Linked DNA regions of Homo sapiens. The protein of the gene in region 3 purifies or fractionates together with the protein of the main gene of each other region. This does not show direct contact. Each region holds a gene or a part of one and is shown on either strand. Other genes may lie near its edges.

What was found. The genes of interacting proteins can lie anywhere in the genome.
Region 1: the proteins of SAMTOR (region 3) and DEPDC5 purify together in Homo sapiens (co-immunoprecipitation; 3 studies listed by BioGRID and IntAct, with this or other methods). This does not show direct contact.
Region 2: the proteins of SAMTOR (region 3) and ACAD11 purify together in Homo sapiens (affinity purification with mass spectrometry; 2 studies listed by BioGRID and IntAct, with this or other methods). This does not show direct contact.

The regions. Positions count from the first base shown.
Region 1 is NC_000022.11:31,904,019-31,908,779, reverse strand, and holds the end of DEPDC5 (GATOR1 complex protein DEPDC5), read right to left. Parts: intron 2,797-4,761; coding exon 2,714-2,796; intron 2,576-2,713; coding exon 2,283-2,575; 3' UTR 747-2,282; downstream 1-746. UniProt on the Homo sapiens protein: As a component of the GATOR1 complex functions as an inhibitor of the amino acid-sensing branch of the mTORC1 pathway.
Region 2 is NC_000003.12:132,656,564-132,664,175, forward strand, and holds the start of ACAD11 (acyl-CoA dehydrogenase family member 11), read right to left. Parts: upstream 3,247-7,612; 5' UTR 3,189-3,246; coding exon 3,040-3,188; exon of another isoform or gene 2,934-3,039; intron 1-2,933. Other genes in the region: UBA5 (ubiquitin-like modifier-activating enzyme 5), read left to right, coding at 3,975-4,135. UniProt on the Homo sapiens protein: Acyl-CoA dehydrogenase, that exhibits maximal activity towards saturated C22-CoA.
Region 3 is NC_000007.14:112,935,833-112,944,649, forward strand, and holds the start of SAMTOR (S-adenosylmethionine sensor upstream of mTORC1), read right to left. Parts: upstream 4,044-8,817; 5' UTR 3,919-4,043; coding exon 3,759-3,918; intron 1-3,758. UniProt on the Homo sapiens protein: S-adenosyl-L-methionine-binding protein that acts as an inhibitor of mTORC1 signaling via interaction with the GATOR1 and KICSTOR complexes.

The DNA.
Region 1 (4,761 bases), on a different chromosome or scaffold from region 3:
CATCTACTATTATCATGTACACTTGGGAACAAAAAGATGAACAAAATAGAGAAGCTTTGGCTGGGCACGGTGGCTCACGCCTGTAATCCCAGCACTTTGGAAGGCCGAGGCGGGTGGATCACAAGGTCAAGAGATCGAGACCATCCTGGCTAACACGGTGAAACCCCGTCTCTACTAAAAATACAAAAAATTAGCCGGGCATGGTGGCGGGCGCCTATAGTCCCAGCTACTCGGGAGGCTGAGGCAGGAGAATGGCATGAACCTGGAGGCGGAGCTTGCAGTGAGCTGAGATCGCACCACTGTATTCCAGCCTGGGTGACAGAGCCGGACTATGTCTCAAAAAAAAAAAAAAAAAAAAAAGAAAGAAAGAAAAAAAAAGAAGCTTCTGCCATGGTAGAGTGTAAACATGTTGAGTACCATGCTGGAGAAGTACAAAGTGCTGTGGGAGGATGTAACAGGGCCAACTCTGCTTCTCTGGAGAAGTGACAGTTGAGCTAAGAGCTGATGGCTGACCACCAGGAGTTAGTGAGACAGAGCGGGCATGGAGGGAGGCATGTTCCAGGCAGATGGAACAGAGGGAACAGCAAGTGCAAAGCGTCTGAGCTGGTGCAGAGTTTGTGATGTTCCAGGGACTGTGTGATGGCCAGGGTGGCTGTACAAACAGCCCACCAGACCAGACTGTGCAGGACCATGTGGGCTGCATCTAAGATTTTTGAAGTTCAAGTCACCAAAAAGTTCTAGTTAAGTGGTGGGCAAAATCACAGTGGTTTTATAAAAAGACTGACTGACAAGTGGAGTGAAAGCAGAGACAAATTAGAAGGTTTTCCTGGGGATCTAAGAGAAAGACAAAGGAAGGCTGGACTGAGTGGCAGCTCAGGGCCTGGGAAGAAGAGAATGGATGCAAAGCCATTGAGGAGGCAAATCAACAGAGCTTGTGATGAACTCCACGTGGTGAGATGGCACAGCAAGAAGTGGCAGTCACTGTCGGATTCTCCCCTCTGACCCACAGCTCCTGAACTGCCCTGAGTAGCTTAAGGCAGGGTGCTGAGGTGAAGCACCAAGCTGAGTCTTATCTCAGCAAATCTAAGTTAGGCCGGGCATGGTGGCTCACACCTGTAATCCCAGCACTTTGGGAGGCTGAGGTGGGTGGATCGCCTGAGGTGAGGAGTTCAAGACCAGCCTGGCCAACATGGTGAAACCCCATCTCTACTTAAAATACAAAAAATTAGCCTGGTATGGTGGCAGGTGCCTGTAATCCCAGCTACTCGGGAGGCCGAGACAGGAGAATCGCTTGAACCCAGGAGGCAGAGGTTGTAGTGAGCTGAGATCACACCATTGCACTCCAGCCTGGGCAACAAGAGTGAAAACTGTGTCAAAAAAAACAACAAAAAAAACAACAACAAAAAAAACCTAAGTTAGAGTCTACAAAATGTTTCCTTTGATTTTTTTCAGAATGCCATCATATCTGCGTCCCAGAGCTGAGCTCACCCATTTAGCAAGATTCATTCTGACAGCATGAGCCTGCAGTTACCTTGTAAGTTATACTGCCTGCTCACTGTCCTCACTGGAACCATCCTTGCTCCTGCCCAGTGGCCTATGAAAGAAATCTCTCAATAAACTCCCAGCCAGACTCTAAGCCAGTGAATTCTGAAGCCCTCTCACCATCTGTGACCACTTCATTGACTGCCATGACCCCGGCCACCTGGCACAACTGCCCAGCCCAGGATGGGACTGCTTCTGTGGGGAACTGGGTGGGGAAAGAAATGATGCACGTGGAGCTCTTTATTTGCTTCTGATATGTACAGGTATATACAGTTGGTGAGAGTCTATGGTACATTATTTCACAAAATTATCTTACATCTGTGCACACTCCTGGGCAAGAAGTGGCAGATTCTGCCCCTAATATCCCATAGATGGTGAAGGAAAAGGATGCTACCAGGAGCCACCCCCTTCCGAGGACATTCATGGGGGCCGCCTGCCCTCTTCCCAGACACTGGAGCCCTCCCACGGACAATCTGTGCCTCCCACCTGCTCTGAGCACTTGCTGACAGGAGTGGTGGCAGCAGCAGCAGCTGCTTCCAAAGTCTTTCTTCTAGAGTAGAAGACTTGTCGTGGGGGCCAAAAACAAACAAACAAACAAACAAACAAACAAAAAACAATGGCCCCCACTCACTGATAGCAGCAAACGGACACCTGACTCCTAGAGCCTGCCTGGAATCCTCCGCCCCGGGTTTGAGGGCAGTGGCTCACCCACCTTCCCCCAGCACAGGTGCAGCCTGGCCTCACGGGGCACTGGCATGCATCTTCTCCAGGCAACTTGTCCAGAACGTGACCAGCCGGTTGTCACGGTTGATGCAGAAGTCCGTGAAGTCCTTCAGCAGCCGATCAGCAAACTTTTCATCCCCTGTGGCGCTGGAGCGCCATGTTTTGGTGAGCATGGTGTTGTAGGCCCAGTTGTAGCCGACCCGCTCCTCGCAGAACATGTTCTGGTTGGTGGAGCTGGTGGAGTTCCGCCGCCGCCGCTGCTGCCCTGAGAACTTGCGCTTGGAGTAGGGCAGCTGCAGAAACACTGTTCCTGAAGAGAAAGGGGAGCGCCTGTGTGGCAGCCACCAGGAGGGCTCCTGGAGCCTGCTGAGGTGGTTCTGCAGCCATAGGCTTGGTGCAAGGAAAGGGATGTGGACCCACCTGCCCAACTCTGCCCGTAGCTCCTCACCTGTAACGTGGATATACTGAGGCTTGTTCTCAGCAGGGAAGTTAAAAGCAGAGGCAGAATATTTATCTTGTACAAACCCAAACCTAGGGAAGGACAGGAAGACATGCTAATCAGCGCCTCCTTAGTTAAAGGGGCAAGGGAAGAGAATGTAGCTGATAGGACTCTCGGACAGCCTGAGACACAGAGATCTGGAAAGATCTCTTTCCAGATTGCACATGCAGGCTGCTTATTTTTGTCCTCACCCTCACCACTTTCTGACCTCTACCTCTTCCAACACCATGGCTTACCAGACCTCCTCACACCCAGCAGCCCGTCATCTCCGTGGTCCACCATGTCACTACCACCATAGTGAAAGAAAGCCTTCCCACCGGCTGCACTCTTCATCCAGCCTTCATCTCTGCTCAGACAGCCCGTCCCTCCTACCATGTTCCCTACCCATCCCAGCAGACCTTCCCACTGAGCGTTCTCCCCCATCCCATCCTGGGCCTCTCACTGGAATCTACCTCATGTCTTGACAGGCCACACATACCCACCCGCATACTCGAGGCTATCCATTCCTCCAGGGAAGGTCCTTATCTTTTTTTTTGGTGAGAGGGAATCTCGCACTGTTGCCCAGACTGGAGTGCAATGGCATGATCTCGGCTCACTGCAACCTCTGCCTCCTGGGTTCAAGTGATTCTCCGCCTCAGTCTCCTGAGTAGCTGGGATTACAGGCATGTGCCACCATGCCTGGCTAATTTTTGTATTAGCCAGGATTGTTCTGGAATTAGCCAGGAGAATCACTTGAATCCGGGAGGCGGAGGCTGCAGTGAGCTAAGATCATGCCATTGCACTCCAGCCTGGGTGACAGGGCGAGACTCCATCTCAAAAAGAAAAAAAAAGAGGAACGCCAAGCTGGGGCTCTCTGCTTCCCTGTGCTCTGGAAATGGGCAGGAGGAGCCATTTTTCATCTATGGCTTGTTCTATTCCTGGTTTTTCTATTTCCATAAGGCACATTTATTACAGTTCTACCTGCTAAGAGCTGTAAAGGACGTGGTAACAGATGTGGCTCCTGCCCTCTAAGTCTGAGGGGTTTATATAATGGAGACAGTGATGTAGGCAGAACTAAAGAAGGGAAAATGCCTGTCTTCTTTCCTGGACTGAGTTCCTTGGGGAGGTGCTGTGTTGTATCCTCTACATAATCTGCATTCCATAATTTTTTACCAAAGAATACATGAAGTCAAATATGCAAACTAAATGGGTAGGCTACTATGCACTGTAAGCTCCCTGTCTACAGGCTGATTATATGATGAGGATTGGCTCTGGATTTTGCCTTTGCAAAATCCTCTCTACTCTTGCTCTGTCATCCAGGCTGGACTGCAGTGGTACAATCTTGGCTCACCGCAACCTCCACCTCCCGGGTTCAAGCAATTCTTGTGCTTCCAGCCTCCCAAGTAGCTAGGATTACAGGCACGCGCCACCATGACCAGTTAATTTTTGTATTTTTAGTAGAGACGGGGTTTCACCATTTTGGCCAGGCTGGTCTTGAACTGCTGACCTCAGGTGATCCGCCTGCTTCGGCCTCCCAAACTGCTGGGATTACAGGCGTGAGCCACCACACCCAGCCTGCTTTCTCTCTACTTTCTAATTAAGGCTACTGATTTCCTCAGCATGGATCAGCCTGATTTTTTTTTACCAGAGTAATTTTTTTTTACCTCATTTCTTCCTTAGGTCACCAGGAAAGAACAAAAAGGCAATTTAACCACATGGTTCCTGGCCACCTGACTGTCCACTCAGGGAGAATGCAAGACAGAAACGCAGTAAGGGCAGGGGAGGGGATATAATCATCTCCACCTGCCCCAAGGAAGATGAAGGAGGAGCTGTAGGTCACAGCCTAGGGGCTGAGGAAGATGAAGGAGGAGCGGTAGGTCACAGCCTAGGGGCTGAGGAAGATGAAGGAGGAGCTGTAGGTCACAGCCTAGGGGCTGAGGAAGATGAAGGAGGAGCTGTAGGTCACAGCCTAGGGGCTGAGGAAGATGGACACTTTTTTAGCTCTTTCTGAGATGGAC
Region 2 (7,612 bases), on a different chromosome or scaffold from region 3:
GCTCACTAAAGCCTCTGCCTCCCAGGTTCAAGCAATTCTCCTGCCTCAGCCTCCCGAGTAGCTGGGATTTACAGGTACCCACCACCACACCCAGCTAATTTCGTATTTTTAGTAGAGACGGGGTTTCACCATGTTGGCCAGGCTGGTCTCGAACTCGACCTCTGGTGATCCACCTGCTTCAGCCTCCCAAAGTGCTGGGATTACAGGCATGAGCCACTGCACCCAGTCTATTGTCAGATTTTTTAAAAGTCAATTTGGTGGTGTGAAATGGTTTCTCATTGTGTTGTTTTTTTTTTTTTAATTTGCATTTCCCTTATTACTACAGTATAATAAAGTTGAGCATCATCAAGTTTTCGCCCATTTTTCTGGTGAGCTATTATAGTTATATTCTGAATATTTTAACCATTATATGCACTGAAAATATTTTCTTCTGTCTTTTCACTTTAAGTCTTTTAATGAAAATTTATCAGTCATTTCCTTTGTGGTTTCTGCTGTTGTCTTTAAAATATTTTCTTCTCTAAAGTCAAAAATATAACTTACACATCTTCCAAACATTTATAGTTTAACATTCAGTTCTTTTATCTACCTGGAACTGTGTGAGATAAAGAGTCTAATTTCTATTTCTTCATACAGATAACAATTATTCCAGTATAACTTCTTGAAAAGTTCTTCTTTTCCCCCCACTGACTCTCAGTGCCAACATTGTCACTTATCAAACTTCTATAAATATGTGGGTCTTTCTGTGAACTCTCTGTTCTATTTTATTGGTCTGTCTATCTCTGTGCTAATATCATACCATCTTAACTCAAATTTCCCACCTTGTGGTTCTTTAAAAATGTTTCTGCTATCCTTAGCCCTTCGCTCTTACACATAAAATTTAGGAGCACTTTTTCAAATTAGAGAAAAAAATTAGGATTTTGATTGTCATTGCTTTGAATCAATAGATCAACTGGAAGAAAAAAGTTTGCAATATTGAATATTCCTATTCAACAACATGGCATCTCTCAATTTTTAAAATTCTTTTTAAGGTCCTAATAAAAGTTTTATCATTTCTCTACAAAGGTATTGCACATCTTTTACTTAGGTAATTTATATTTTTGATGCTCCTGTAAGTTTTTGAAAATTACATTTTAACTGTTGCTAAAGTAGAGAAATGCAGTTGATTTCTGTACACTGAACTTTGATAGTCTTTTACTGTCTATGTAGATTATTGGCTCTTTAATCCATGAATCACTTAATTTATAAACATGTATTTGTTAGCTATCTTCTGTTAAACTTTTGGTATTAAAAAAACACATATTCCTTTTTTTTTTTTTTTTTTTTGAGTCTCACTCTGTCACCTAGGCTGGAGCATGGTGGTGCAATCTTGGCTCACTGCAACCTCCCTCTCCTGGTTCAAGCGATTCTCCTGCCTCAGCATCCCAAGTAGCTGGGACTACAGGCACGTGCCACCACGCCCGGCTAATTTTTGTATCTTTAGTAGAGATGGGGGTTTCACCATGTTGGCCAGGCTGGTCTTGAACTCCTGACCTCAAGTGATCCACGTGCCTCGGCCTCCCAAAGTGCTGGGATTACAAGTGTGAGTCACTGCACCTGGCCAAAACACACATTTTCAAAATATAAAGATTGATTCTTTTGAGTTTCTGAGACTTCCTTCATGGCCTATGTGTTTTCAATTTTTATAAACTTTTTCATGTGTCCTAGAAATGAATGTGTGTTCTCTGTGGGATCCAGAGTTCCATATATATTTATTAAACCAAGCTTATACAACATTTCTGGAAGCAATTTTTATACCACAACTAATTTACAACTAATTTCATTTTTTGAACACGGTTATGGTTTAACATTCAGCTTGGTTCAGAATTAAGTATCTTTCAGTTATGTACCTCTTCAACACTCCTACAATATGAACGTTACTATCTCCTTTTTGCCAAAGCAGGACTAGATGTTCAAAGGGTAACTTGTCCAAATTCCACAGCAATTGAAATAGTTGAAATTTGAACTTTGATCTGTTTCAGTTTGTTACAACACAAGGCTTCTAGCCTAGAAATCTCAGCTATTCTTTATTCCACCTTTCCCTTCATCTTCCAATATCTATTGGGACATGGGACCTTTAAATTCTACACCCTAAAATGTTCCCTGATCCATCTCATTTATTATTATTTTCATTTTCACCAAAATCAGTAGTCAAAGAATATAAATGCTAGTGATAAAATACCACTAGCACACTATGTTGTTGCAATTTTTACGCCCTTTCACCTATATTACGGTATTTCATTTCATTAATAAGACTAATCAAAATAGGTATTACAACTTAGGAAACTAGTTCTCAGAGTGTTTATGTAACATATTTAAACTCCCAGACAGCAAGTGACAGATCCAGTTTTCTGAATGATAGGACTCTTTCTGTAGCCCTGTATTAGTAACAATGTTATTTTTAGAATAAAGTTTTAAGAATGTATTATCTATTGTAAAACATCAGACTAAAGCCAGATTCCCGGTGGGGAACGCTACTCTCAGGATCCTCTCACTCAGTTCCATTACCTCACTTCAAAAAACCTGAGGCCCAAAGTGGTGCTGTGACCTCCTAAGTGGAAAAGCTAGTACTCGAATTCGGATCCTCCATCTGGTGTCATTAACTCAGCCTCCCGGAATACGGCCAATCAAACGGAATTACACCAGCTTCTCAGAAAAAGATCTAATGGCTGTATCACAAAAGAAGGCATCTATTTCTCAGAATTTGTAGCCTTAATTGCCTTGGTGAATCCTCAAGGGACATAAATCCATCCTTTAACAAAGATTCCTTTGGATAGTAGAATGGTGAACGTTATTGCGCTTCCATTACCGCCCTCCAATTGGGAAGCCCCCAGCATCGAATTCGGAGGGCCGGCAATAGCAGCTCATGCCTGTAGGGTGCGTCCACTGACTGCAGGAAAAGCAATCAGGGTGGGAGAAACTTAGGAAACCACCCAGGGCCAAAGGAAGGAAAACTCAATGTACAAATTTTTTTCCGCTGGAGGCAAAGGCTGACATCCATACCTGTACTGGGCAATGGTCAGCGTAGCCTCACGTTCGGCCCCAAAGCCAGACAAGTGCTGGTTTAGGTAGGCCTCCAGGGACTTGCTGTCGAACTTGTGCTGGGGCAGCACTTCGGCCAAATCGGACTCGCCAGTAGCACCTGGCTTCATGATCACCCCCGCAGGCCACAGCAACGCGGCATCCACAGGTCTCGAGTGCCGAAGTCCTTCAGGATTGGGGCAACGTCCCCTCTAGAGCATGGGCCGAGGCCGGGGTGGGGTCTGGCTCCAGCCAACCGCACACAGCCTACGCGCCGTTGCTGAGCAACGCTTGCCCGCTGAATCCCGAGGTTTTAGCTCTAGTCAAGTGCCAAAAGAGCCCAATGTGTGTTCGGGTTTCAATTCTCCAGTCAGCGTCAGAGTTGGAGGCCTCAATTTTAAAGAAGGCAAAGCCATGGTCATCGTTGCGGGTAAGGAACAACGCAGAAGCCTCTTCCACCCCCAAATTTAATGCAACAGCAGGCGGAAGACCTGCAGGGTCCCGTTCAGAAAAAGGGCCGTCAGACTGTCGAGCCTAAGAATAAAAAGACCCTGTTTCTCTTAGATACCCGGTTAGCAAGGCAACATCGCTGGCCTCCTGCCCTGGACACTTATCACCCCGGTGCTGCTGCGGCCGGGTTTAGCCGGCCCAGCGAGGAAGGAAGCCGAAAGAGCCAGGTTTTTGATGAGGGGGAGCGATGTCTGCGACGCACCGGAAGCGGCTCCGAGGAAGGCCTGTGGGAGTCTCGGAGACGTGTCTGTCTGTGAGGCGCTGGGTGCACGTCCCCAGGGCTCTGGGCTAGGAAGGCAGCGGCGAGGTGCCTCCCCACGTACCCCTCGCGGGCCCAGCCGAGCAACGTGGGGCGAAGGCGGCGGCGAAGGCCCGGGCTGGGAGCGTTGGCGGCCGGAGTCCCAGCCATGGCGGAGTCTGTGGAGCGCCTGCAGCAGCGGGTCCAGGAGCTGGAGCGGGAACTTGCCCAGGAGAGGAGTCTGCAGGTCCCGAGGAGCGGCGACGGAGGGGGCGGCCGGGTCCGCATCGAGAAGATGAGCTCAGAGGTGGTGGATTCGAATCCCTACAGGTAACCTGCGTCGCCGGTCGGAGGCAGGCGCGGGGGACGAGGTCAGGCTCCGTGAGGTCAGAAGTGAGGCGCTTCCCACGTCCCGCTCATGGGGACGCCCGCCACCCTTTTCTTGGTCTGCGAATCCTGTTCCCAAATGGGCAAGGCCACATCTTAGTACTGATCGGAAGATATTCTTTCTCTTTTTTAAAAACCTCCAGTGAGTCAGCCATATGGTGCTGCTCCTGTGCCTGCTGAGGACGTGTGTCCAGTTTCCTATCACCCTTGCCTCTTAATTAGTCCGCCTCGCTGTGTATAAGACTGATAGTAAGAACTTTCAGAAGATGAGATCAAATATTAAACCTGCTAAGGTAAACTTTGAGTTTCATTAAAGGCTTATCAATGCATCTTAAATGGGGTCGGGGCGGGGGAGAGCGGGGTTAGCTCTATTCTGAGATATTCGGGTGCTCCTTAACATCTCAAACCATTCGACATTACCAAGACTGCCCAGGCCTCTCTTTTCTTCTTTCCTAACAAAGCTTATCAATTCAGCAGATGGAATATAGTGCAATGGTTAAGGGTAAGGACTCTACCGCCAGACTGATTGCAATTCAAATCTAACTACTCTCTTCGTAACTGCCTAACCTTTGGCAAGTTGTGAAACTTTCCGCTTCAGCTTCTCACCTGTACAATGAAGATAATAGTAATATCTATCTCTGTCATAGTTGTGGGGATTGAAAAAATCAGTATGTATAAAGGTCTTAGAGTAGCGCTTGTACATGGCAAGCCTTATACAAGATTTTATTGCTAGGTGCATTTAGTAGCAAGCAGTTATTGAGCTTTCACTGTGTAAGCACTTTACATGCATTGTCTCCTCCCACCAAAACCCTATGAGATTGCTACTATTTTACCCCCATTATATAAGTGAGAAAATTGAGGCTTAGAGAGCCACCTCAGGTTCATGCCTTGGTAGTAAATAATAAGGCCTGTCTTGCATTAGATTTGTCTTAATGTAAAATTCTCATGAACCGTCTCCCCAGTAAAAACAATTAAGTCGTGTAGCTAAAAATTGTATAGTGTTAAAGTAGATAAGGAAGATTTTATTGTTGCTTTTTTCCTTTAAAGAGCATAACAGTTTTGATTTTTAAAAAAGGTTTTAGTTTGTGATATATAAAGCCGCAGTAGAAGTCTTAGGGTGCACTGTTTTAACTGTGTTGCCAAATATGAACGGTTAATGGTCCAGAATTTTTAGAGATTAAATAAGCATGAACTGACATCTCTAATCAGAATAAGTGGAAACTATTTGACATTTTTAAAACATTTTAAAATTTTACAAATGAAGACTTTGAAATTTTCCCTCCAGAATGAAAAGCAGAGGAATATGGGTCATGAATTTAAGTTGTCTTTCAGACATTATTTAATATGAGATGATCCCTTGACATTGTAATTATAACAAAACTTTCAGAACTCAAGTCTAAATATGTAGTATTTTCTATCTGATTTGCACCATTGACTTTATTAAAATTGCTATACAGGAGATGGCAGTTTGATACCCAAAGCTGTTCACTGATATATGGAATTTTAATAAAGTTCAGCTTTAATTTTTTGAATTGTTCATACAGCAAATATTTACTGAGTACATTTTTGTCTCCAGTCCTCCTTGACAATATTATTTACTTTGTATTGAGTACTTATTGTGTGCAGACACTGTGAATATAAAGTAGACATGGTCTTTTCCCTCTAGAGCTTACCAGATGAGTGTGAGATAAATAGAAAAGTAAACATGCCATTGCAGTACAGGTGATAAGAATTATGATAAAGTACAGTGTTATTATTGATAAAGTACAGGTTATTGAATTATGATAAAGTACAAAAGGTTATAGGAAAGGGATATGTATGTGTTCAACACCATTTTAATTGCTTCAAGAGATACAAAAGAAATATAAAGCACCTGACTTTTGCTTCAGTTTGAGAGACTACATGGAGGTGGGATATTAAAAAACACAAGTAACCGTAAAATTATGTGTTATGGAATATAGTTATAAGCATGTGGAAAAATTGGAGAGGCTTTGAGATTAGAAAACCTGGTATCAAATCCTGGCTCAGAAACCCAGCTCAGAATACCACTTGCCAGTTAGCTGATTTTGGGCAGTTGATTAACCCAAACCGTTTCCCTCATCTGTAAAAGGGGGTTGCCATCCATGCTTCTCAGATTATTTAAAGATTGAAGGGAGCATCAAGGTAAGGATAGCAAATTCCTGTGATGGATCTGCCATCACTTTCTACCCAACCTCACTAAAGTGACAGTAAAGGAATTTTTTAAAAGAAACTCCCATTGAAAATATAAAGGGTTCGTATTAATAACTGATAGGGAGGGGTGGGTCCCTGTACTTGATTATAGTAACAATTTGGAAACTAGAGAAGGGATGGGTGAAGGTAACTGATTTAATAGATTCAGAGAAGTTTAATCTTAAGCTCGCAACCCAGTTTATTGCAAGAATCCCCCAAAAGGCTCAGGAATAGGCACAGGTACTTGCAGAACTTCAGGTAGGGCTAAAAAAAACTTTCAGTTGAAAATCTGTTGAAGAAACAAAAGCCCCAGATCCCCTACTCCACTGTGGGTAACTGGGCAAACACTCCTTCCCTACCAGAAGAGGAGAGTAGAGATTTCTTCATTAGAAAGAGTAAAATAGAAGATTTCCAAGAATAATTGGGGCAGGTCTTTGTACCTGAAGGAAGGGGTAAACTGATTGTTTACATGCTGAATGCTGTGACTGAATGTAAACTAAATGCTTACATACTGAGTGTCGAGACTCCCAGCCTTGCTTCTTCACTTCCAACAGCTGATCGTGGGGTTGGAACTCCAACTCAGGTTGGAGTTTGAAAGATTATTCTCTAGGGAATCTGATAGAGCCAAGAGGAAAGACTGAAAGACACTGACATTGTGGGTTTCTCAACTAAATAGTCTGGCCAGATGACCCTACAGTGAAGTCCAAAGTCAAACAGTTATTGCCTATATTGTTACCTTTATTAGTGTCCCACACTTAAATATGAACAGAACAAAGGATGAAAGAAACTTCTAACATGAAAGAAATAAAAATAGCAACTTGGATAGACTATGTAAGATAAACACATCCCCCTAAATTATCATTAGTATCCTTAGATGAGAGAAGATATGGTACAAATGATACAGGAACAAGGTGCAAAGTATTTAGATGATCAGGAATTCTTGCAAATGGAGATGGTAATAGAAATGAAAATCTTAATAGAAGTGTTGGAAAATAAAGTTGAAAGAAATCATCCAGAGAATAGAGCAGAAAACTAAAATAGTAGATAACTGGAGAAAGAAGATAAAGGACAAATCCAGATGGTTCAACTTCCAAATAATAGGAGTTCCAGATAGTCCAGGAAAAACAAACCAAACAAGGAAGTAACCAGATTCTTCAAGGACATTTCCCAGAACTGAAAATGTGAGTTTTCATTTTGAAAGAGTCCACT
Region 3 (8,817 bases):
ATGCCAGGCATAAAAGCAATCATTACAGGAATGGGTTCATGTGAATACGATTATGGAAAAAAAAAATCATACAAAGACAACCAAAAACACACATGGCTCTACTTCAGTTCTTGATTTGATACATATTTGTCAGGCTCATCTAATTAAATAATGAAGTCCCTGTTTGAAAAGCGAAACTAGTTTTTTTAATTAAAAAGCTGTCTATAACTCTTATACATTTAAAATATTTTTGGTTTACATGGAGGTCAAATTTTAAAAATTATGTATGCAAAGACAGAAAACACCTATATGTGCAAGCATATTTCCATTTATAAATATGGATCTATTCACTAGATAGTGAAAAACCTATCTTATGAATATCTTATGAATATAACCTCACTTTAAAAGACTGTCTCTTAACTATCAATGGCAGACACCAGAAATACCCCTTCGCATCACCACTGCTAGGCATCTCCCTACCATTTCTTTTTAGTAACTGCTTCAGATACGAGTGCTGCCTGGAACACACCTTTATCTCCAGTTCTCACTTTACCTTTAGACAAATTGGCACAGCATCTCTTAAGTGGTGAAACAAGGCAGGCCATAAACTGGGGAAGGAAAAAGTGGTAAACGAAAAGAGTGCATTAAGCCTACCTGCTACTCTTTACAACCCTGTTCACCCTTCCCCACCCCAAGCCTGTTCATCACCATCAACTAGCATCAGTTGGGCAAATGGTTGGAGAAGAGTGGAAAAAAATCTTTTCTTATCACAGCAAAAAAGAACAACACAACTTATTTTCATTGTTTTTCCTGTTTTATTTTCAATTCCACTAATAGAGATAAGGGAAAAGAAGGCTCTGTTCTCCAACCTCCCAGTCACTATCTATCCTGTCCTTAATATTCAATGGCTGTTTTGCCTCCTTATTCTACCCTAACTTATTTCCTTCCCTGCCATCTCTCCCCAAAAAACCCTCACCTTGTATAGCCCCAACTCAGCTAATCATACCTATCCTATGGATCATCCATTCCCATCAATTTATAACTTTTCACCTAATGGAAATTCTAGGGCCACTTCCTGCTTCTCATTTTCCCTCCTATTCTAACATTTGGAGTCACTAATATTAGGTTTGGAGTTGGGGGTGGGGAACCTATATTATTCCCATAAAATATGTATAGTATTAATAATGAACTACCAAAGCATCAAGAAAGTTATTTTAATATTTTTAGGACTCCGCTCACTTATCTGTAAAATGAAGAAGCTATTAGATCACCACTCTAATATCTGGCTGACAATTTCCAGTTCCTAATAATAGGGATCTTAAACTATAGATCTGAGGTAGAATACAGGAATTGTCTAAGAGGCACCCAGTTGAATCTGCTGATCAGCCATGTTTGGGAATCACTGCTAAATGCTAAGAGGTTCCTTCTAGTCTAAAACTCCAAGATCCTAAGCTGGAATTTTCACTGCATTTGCTGGTAGAAGAATTGTGATAAAAGGGGTACAGTTTCCATAGTTATTGGTGCTATAGTTCAGGTATGTTATTGATTCAATGGGCCTTTGCAGACTGATCTAGCACTTAAGCAATCTTCAGATTACAATAACAGCTGACTTGCAAATGAACTTGTAAAATATGTTTACAGACTGGGGACCATCAGCACAATACTAAGTCCTCAAAGTAAAACACTAAAAATTATTTCCTTAGTATTATTATGTGCACAGAGTTTTTCACAGATGACTTTTTTACTACTAATATTTAGCCTATATGTCAGAAATAAAGGTAGAAGGAGCATGCTCATTAGGATCACTTATTCTGCTAATTCACTGATGGGGCTTTGTATATCATTCAAGCAAAGCCTAGAGAAGTCTAGATCACCGGTGAAATTCAGGGTATTAAAGCGCCTAAAGAATAGTCTCATTCAAATGTTTAAACTGCCAGGACTTTAACTCCCCAGAAGCATACTAGATCATTCACTTATGAACTCCATGTATCTATTCTAGATCTGGTAACTTCCGATTCTCATAAACAAGAGTTCCTGTGGTTAATACTCAGGCTTAAAACATGGTTAAACATGTGGGAACTAAGCACATATAAACAGCACTTGAAGAGATGCCACATTAGTGTGTTAATTTGAGTGGAACCTATTCATTTATGAATAAATGAATAATGAAATTATTAAAAGGTAAAAATAGAAATGGAATTCTATGCTAGTCATTTTTCTCTTTAGAAAGATGCACTTAAATTTGTACAAAATAGCAGGATAAATTGCAGGAAAATGTGTCCATTTATTTCCTAATCTCTCCAAATAACATAAAATCTACAGTGAATTCCATTATGTAAGAGCATTCTTTGAATATCAAGAATGATGCAGTTGTTGCTATGGTAACTACTCATTTTATTGACTAAATTGTGGGTTTGGGTAGCATTCTTTCAAAAAACATATTTTACCATCCTAAGTAGGTCTGATAAGACTCTTTCTATTGCTATCTGTTAAACAATAACTACAAGCCCCATTTGGGGATGATTAAACAGCCTCTATTAAAAGCTAAGCTTGATTTGCTAAGGAAAGAAACCTTTAAAGTTTGAAAAATGAAACATATCAACTACATTCAAAAGAACAAAGGATACTTAGTTTTAACTTTCTAGAGTAGTTGAAACGTGTGTATAAATCAACAGTAACATGATCTTACCTGTCTGTATTCCTTCACTGCCATAATTTTCCTTCTAATCCTAAATTATTAACTAAGTATAGGACTAACACCAGAAGGCTGCTGACTTTTCAGTTTGCAATTAAGCTAAAATGAGAACCAGTGGAAAGCTTTCCTCATTTCGATACTCAGGAGAAGTCTCTCTCCCAAGCCTATGAAAACAGAATTTTCACTGTCAAAATCTTATAAAACAGCTGTGTACAAAAGCCTATATTTAAAGATATCAAGGATAACTGTAGACTCCAACTATAAACACTCTTCAGGCACAGGCAAAAGCCACTAAGGCTTCTTCCCCTATGAGCTTCCACAGAGGGGGTTCTCACCGGAACCCCATCCATGGAAGCCGAGGGTGGGCTTTATCGGCAGGTGTCTTTAGGAGGCTTCCAATACAAACGGTATTTTCAGAACCTGCCCAGATCTCTTCCTCATCGCCTAAATAAACAGTTAAGACCAAGTATTTAAGAAATGGGAGTGGGGGCCACGAGTGTAGCCCGCCCCCTTTTAACAATGTGAAGTCCAGTCAGCTAAAAGGCCTGCTGGCTTCCCAGCCCTGGAAGCCAATGCGAGGAAGGCTCGGCATGGTTGTAGGAATGAAGTACTAGGAAGGGGGTCTGATAAGGAAGCAAATGGTACAGCCGGTAGGTCAAGCGTAAAGGAGGGACAACTCAGGTTTCTTTTCGTCTTTTACAAATGGATTTTACCTGTCTTGTTTTACCTCGGCGTCTCTTGCAAAAAGCGACCCCCACCTCCTCTGTGAGCGTGTATGTGTTTGTGTGTGCCGAGACAACAACCTCAGCACCCCGGCTGGGGACAGGGGCTTGGAGGGGGTGGGGACTCAATTCCTTTACAGGCCTAGAACTCTCCCGAAGGGCCCTCAAAGAAAAGGGGGCGGGGAGGAGCGCGTCTGATGCCGACTAGGGGGCTCAGACCAGGCCCGGGAGAGCAGCAGCGGCTGGGGGGACGTGCAGATCCTTTACATTTTAATGGTGGCCTCTTTGGAGGAGGGAAGAGGTGACAAGCGGTTGGGGGTGATGAGGCCTCCCCTTCCTCCCTCACTCAGCGCGCTGTTTACCTTCTCGGTACTTCTTGCGGAGCCGCCGGTGGACGCTCTTCACCACACCGGAGAGCTTCTCCTGCTCCAGTTTCCGCTCCTGCTCCCGGGGCGGCGGAGTGTTCGGGGACCCGGCCCTCTGCGCACGAGCAGTATTTCGGCCGCCGGCCCCTGGCTCCATATCGCAGCCGCCGCCGCCGCCGCCGCCCCTCAGGCCCCCGCAGACGCTCCCCAGATGGAGGAGGTGGGGTAGGAGGAGGGAGCTGCGGAGGCAGCAGCCAGAGGAGGCAGAGGAACCGGAGCGACAGCCTTGGAGGTGGACCCTCACCCAAAAGTGCAAACTGATTGGTGGATTTTGAGGGCTGGGCGGAAACGGAAAAGGCTAAGGGCCAATGGGCAGAAAGCGCCGGCGGCGAACCCGGTTGTTTGGGAAGGCGAGCAGCTGGAGGAGGCGGAGCTTGCGGGGATAGGGAGGCTGAGGCAGTGGGAGCTCCAGGCCTGGGTGCTCATCTCTTCCCCACCCTCCCCGGATTCTGTGCGCAGGCGCTGTGGCTCGGCCTCGGGAGACGAGCTGTGAGCAACGCGCTTGCGCGTCTCAGTTTGCTTAGTTTGGGCTTTTTTACAGCTCGGCTTTCTGATGTCTTCCATCATTTTCATCCCCTACACTTTATAATCTGTTGCGATGCGGCCAGGGTGCTCTGCTTGAACCTCCGCTGCACCTTGTCACATGTAGGTTCCCTTTAGTTACTTGCGCTTTGAGATGACGTTACACTTCAGGGACCTCAAGCACACAAGCATTCTAAGGCTCAAGGAGAGGTCTGGCTACCAAATGCTAATTTAATTCTCAGGTCGACAATGGTTTATGCCTGCAGTACTACTGCTGGGCAAAGGACATAGAAAATGCGAAAAGGAGAGGGCCAAGAAAAGCAACAGGAGATGCAGGAGGACAATAAGGAACGATGGAAAACTCACAGCAGATGCCCTCAAGAACTTTTGTAGTGACCACGGTGTTAATAAGCAGCCTTCCCTGATCTTATTCGCATCAGCACTCTGAGCTTTTATGGTCAGCTCAGGTGACCTCCTGTCCTTTAATTTGGAGAGTTAGTCTATGCGGAGTGTATCTAAGTGGGTTTGGTAACCTGTTCACCCTCCTCCACTTCTTTTCCATCTCTTGGGGAACGCGATTGTTGACTTCTGTCCCAGAAAGGTGGAACACTGCTCTCTGGAGAGAGGTAGACTGCATTGGCTCCTGAAGTGGTACTGAGGCTGCTGGAGTGTCAGAGATTGAATAGACTGAGAGCCCCTAATGAGTTGTGTTGGATTGTGTACCACTTCCCCATTGCAGGTGTTGGTTACGTGACAGTCTATGGAAATGATTGCAATGGTAACATTTTGATAATGATTTTCTAACTACGAATAAAGCTTGCATTATGTAACTGTTTTATATGCTACCTTCTTTATATTGAATACGCTGAAGAGCAAAGAATTATACACACTGTCTAGGACACAGGAGAAGCGGGAGGTGAAGGGAGATTGATGGAATTTAAAGGCGGAAGATGTGTCCCTACAGCACAGTGAAGAGACAGATCAAACACAAAGACAAGGACATATAAACTTCAAAAGAACTCCTTATAATTATGAAGAGAAGTTAAGCGGAAGTGCCTAATAAATTGAAAATATGGTGGTCTTATTTGGGGGAATTTCATTTGGGAAGAAAGGGGAGCTTGAATTACATGTCTCTTTTGGCTCTTTCCATATTTTAATACATATGGAAGGCAAATAATGGTGCAGATATTCGAAAGATACAATGATAGTAAAAAGAGCATTAAATTTCACTTGTGCTGAACTGTAGTTTTATTTTTTAAAAAAGAACTTTTCAGCATAATACTAGCAAATGAACTTTTAAGGCCTCTTAACTGAAGATGTTCACTGAAGGAAATTTGGAAAATACAGAAAAGAGTAAAGAAAATAAGACATCTGGACTGAGAGATAACAACTTAACATTTTTTCTTTGTTTGTATATACTAATTTCAAATAGGATATTTCTTGATGCCTATGTGGCAATCTATTGTATGAATAGCCTACTATTTCATTAACCAATTCCCAGTTATTGTAGATTTATGTTTTTTCCAGCTTTTTTGTATTACAGATAATGTCATGACAAACACATTTGCACACAAGTATTTGTCCATTTCTTTAATTATACATTCCATCAGGCTAAATTCCTAAAAGTTCAATTTCTGAAGCAAAGGGTCAAACATGTTAGGGTTTTGATGTATATTATGAAATTGCCTTTTCTGAAAGATAGTAGCAGTTTATGCCATGTCCACTAGTACCTATGGGTGTTTATTTCATTGCACCCTTACCAAAGGTAGGTATTACAATTTACAAAGTCATTAATGAGATTTTAAAAACATGTCTATTTTTTAAATAAATATGTGGAATTTCCTGCTGTTTCGTAACTAGCTATTCTTATTGGTATAATATTTAACTTAAAATACCAACGTAAGAATAAATAAAAGGAACTTATTTAAGACTATCTAGTTGTTGTTGTTCAAGCAGATTGAAGAGTCCTACCTTTTAAAATTACTTTTTGACTTCACACTTTCTTGAAAAGCAACCGAAGAAATAACAATTGGACAGCCAGATTTTATTTTAAAGAAAATGAAATCTTTTTATTTTCTTTAAATTTTTTATTTAAAAAATGTTTTATTTAAAATTTTCATTTAAAAAATTTTAAATTTTTTATTATAAAATAAAGATTTTATTTTAAAAATAAAAATAAGATTTATTTTATTTTATTTTATTTTATTTTATTTTATTTTATTTTGAGATGGAGTTTCACTCTTGTTGCCCAGGCTGGAGTGCAGTGGCGCATTCTCGGCTCACTGCAACCTCCGCCTCCTAGGTTCAAACGATTCTCCTGCCTCAGCCTCCCGAGTAGGTGGGATTACAGGCATGCGCCACCATGCCCGGCTAATTCTGTATTTATAGTAGAGACGGGGTTTCTCCATATTGGTCAGGCCAGTCTCAAACTCCCGACCTCAGGTGATCCACCCACCTTGGCCTCCCAAAGTGCTGGGATTACAGGCGTGAGCCACGGCGCCAGGCACAGATTTTATTTTAAAGATGCGTGAATTCAAATGAGGTATAGGCCAACATGTCCTGAGAAATATTTTAAGGTGATTTTTTTTCCACTGACTATCCACCACAGCACAAAAGGGAGTTTATAACTACTTTCCTCCTGTGTAGTTAGCAATATTACAAAAAGCTTTCTATCTGTTAAGGTTGCTGAGGAGTCATAATGGAATTCTCCATTTAAGTGAAACAACAGTCCTAATTGCTGATAAAATGGATTCACTGAAGGAAGCAGGCTTGGTGCCATATTCAATGAGCATATCCTATGCCCAGGAAAATGTCAGCAACTTTCCCCACTTTGTGGTGACAGGTTTTTATTTACTGTAAATATCTTGTTTTAAAAAATTCTCTCATTATTTTAAATGCCTGTTAGGGAAAGAGGATGTTGGAATAAAACACTCTTCACTGAGCAGGACAAACCAGTCTGGGAAGTAGAGGCTTTTCTAATGACCGCTCTAAACCCCTGATAAGTAAATTTCTCATCCTCATTCTTTGCCTTACCTAACCAGCTTCTGTACCTAATTCCTTACACATTAGGTAGGTCAAGTAAGCTTCCTTTGTTCAAGAACCACTCAGTACAGAAAAAATGTTTTTGGTGAGAAAAATACCTTGTCATCTTTGTTTACAGTTATATTCTTTATAAGTAACACAAATTCCTACAAAGGGTGTAAAGAGTCAACATATTGCAGTAATAAAATATGTTCTATTCCCAGTGTGAGTTTGAAAAAATTAATGGGTGATGAAAAGTCAACTTAAAAATCCATATCAAAATCTGGGATGAGGCACTGAGGTAACCCGTAGATTCTGGGTGTGCTTTGTAAAAGTGTTGTACATTTCATTCTGACCCTCTTGAGTGTTGCTGTAGAAGAGAGAAGACTACATAATAGAAGTTGGGGTTCTTGGCCAAATTTGGTGGCTCACACTTGTAATCCAGGCACTTTGGGAGGCTGAGGTGGGAGGATCACTTGAGACCAGAAGGTCGAGGCTGCAGTGAGCCATGATTGTGCCGCTGTACTCCAGCCTGGGTGACAGAGTGGGACCCTGTCTCAAACAAAAAAAAGAAAGAAAGAAAAAAAAGAAATTGGGCTTCTTTGAATAATCTAAGGCATTATTTATTTTTATTCTTCAGTGACTTGGTATTATCTACTTTGCTTTGGCCCTCTTTATTATAAAAATCATAAAAGCAATTAGACTTTAATGTTGCATAATAAAAGTATTAATATTAAACTTCTGTTTCTAAAACATAAAAATGTTAAAACAACAGTGTATGTCAATTGTGCAAAAAGACTTGATCAGCTTTATTATTGAAGATACAGCTGTATTCCAAGCTGGACAAATCTTTGGTTCATGACTATTTAGAAATAGAATCTTTAGGAATTCAATTAAAATGAGGACTGGAAAAGTAAAATCTATGTCATTTTGAAAATATTTACCACTGTTTCCAAAATTCTTACCCATGAATATAAAAATATCCATGAAGTTTAAATGATTTTTTGTATTCAGAATTTTAAAAAGTAGATGTATCTTTAGTTGAGCACATTATAGAGAAATTGTTAAGCCTTTTGTTTTTCATATTTTATTTCAAATCATAGAAACTTTCTTTGGAAAATTCCGTATTTAATGTTTTGATAGAGACAAACAGTGGAGAACTAACAAGAAAAATATTTTTAGTGATATATTTCTATTCAATATGGCAGATTACAACTTAAAAATCCTTCTATTGATTAAAAATTAAAAGGGTTATTTTCTTTAAAAATTTATGTCTTTAACTACTATTTCAATGACTTCCCTGCAATTCATAATTTAACTGCGAACATTAAAAGTATTCAAAATAACACATAGATTTGTTATCTTTCAAAAGTTAATAGACTGGTGTTAACCAAGTGACAATCATTAATTAATGCTTACCTCAAAATACAATTATAAAACATACTATTTTGTG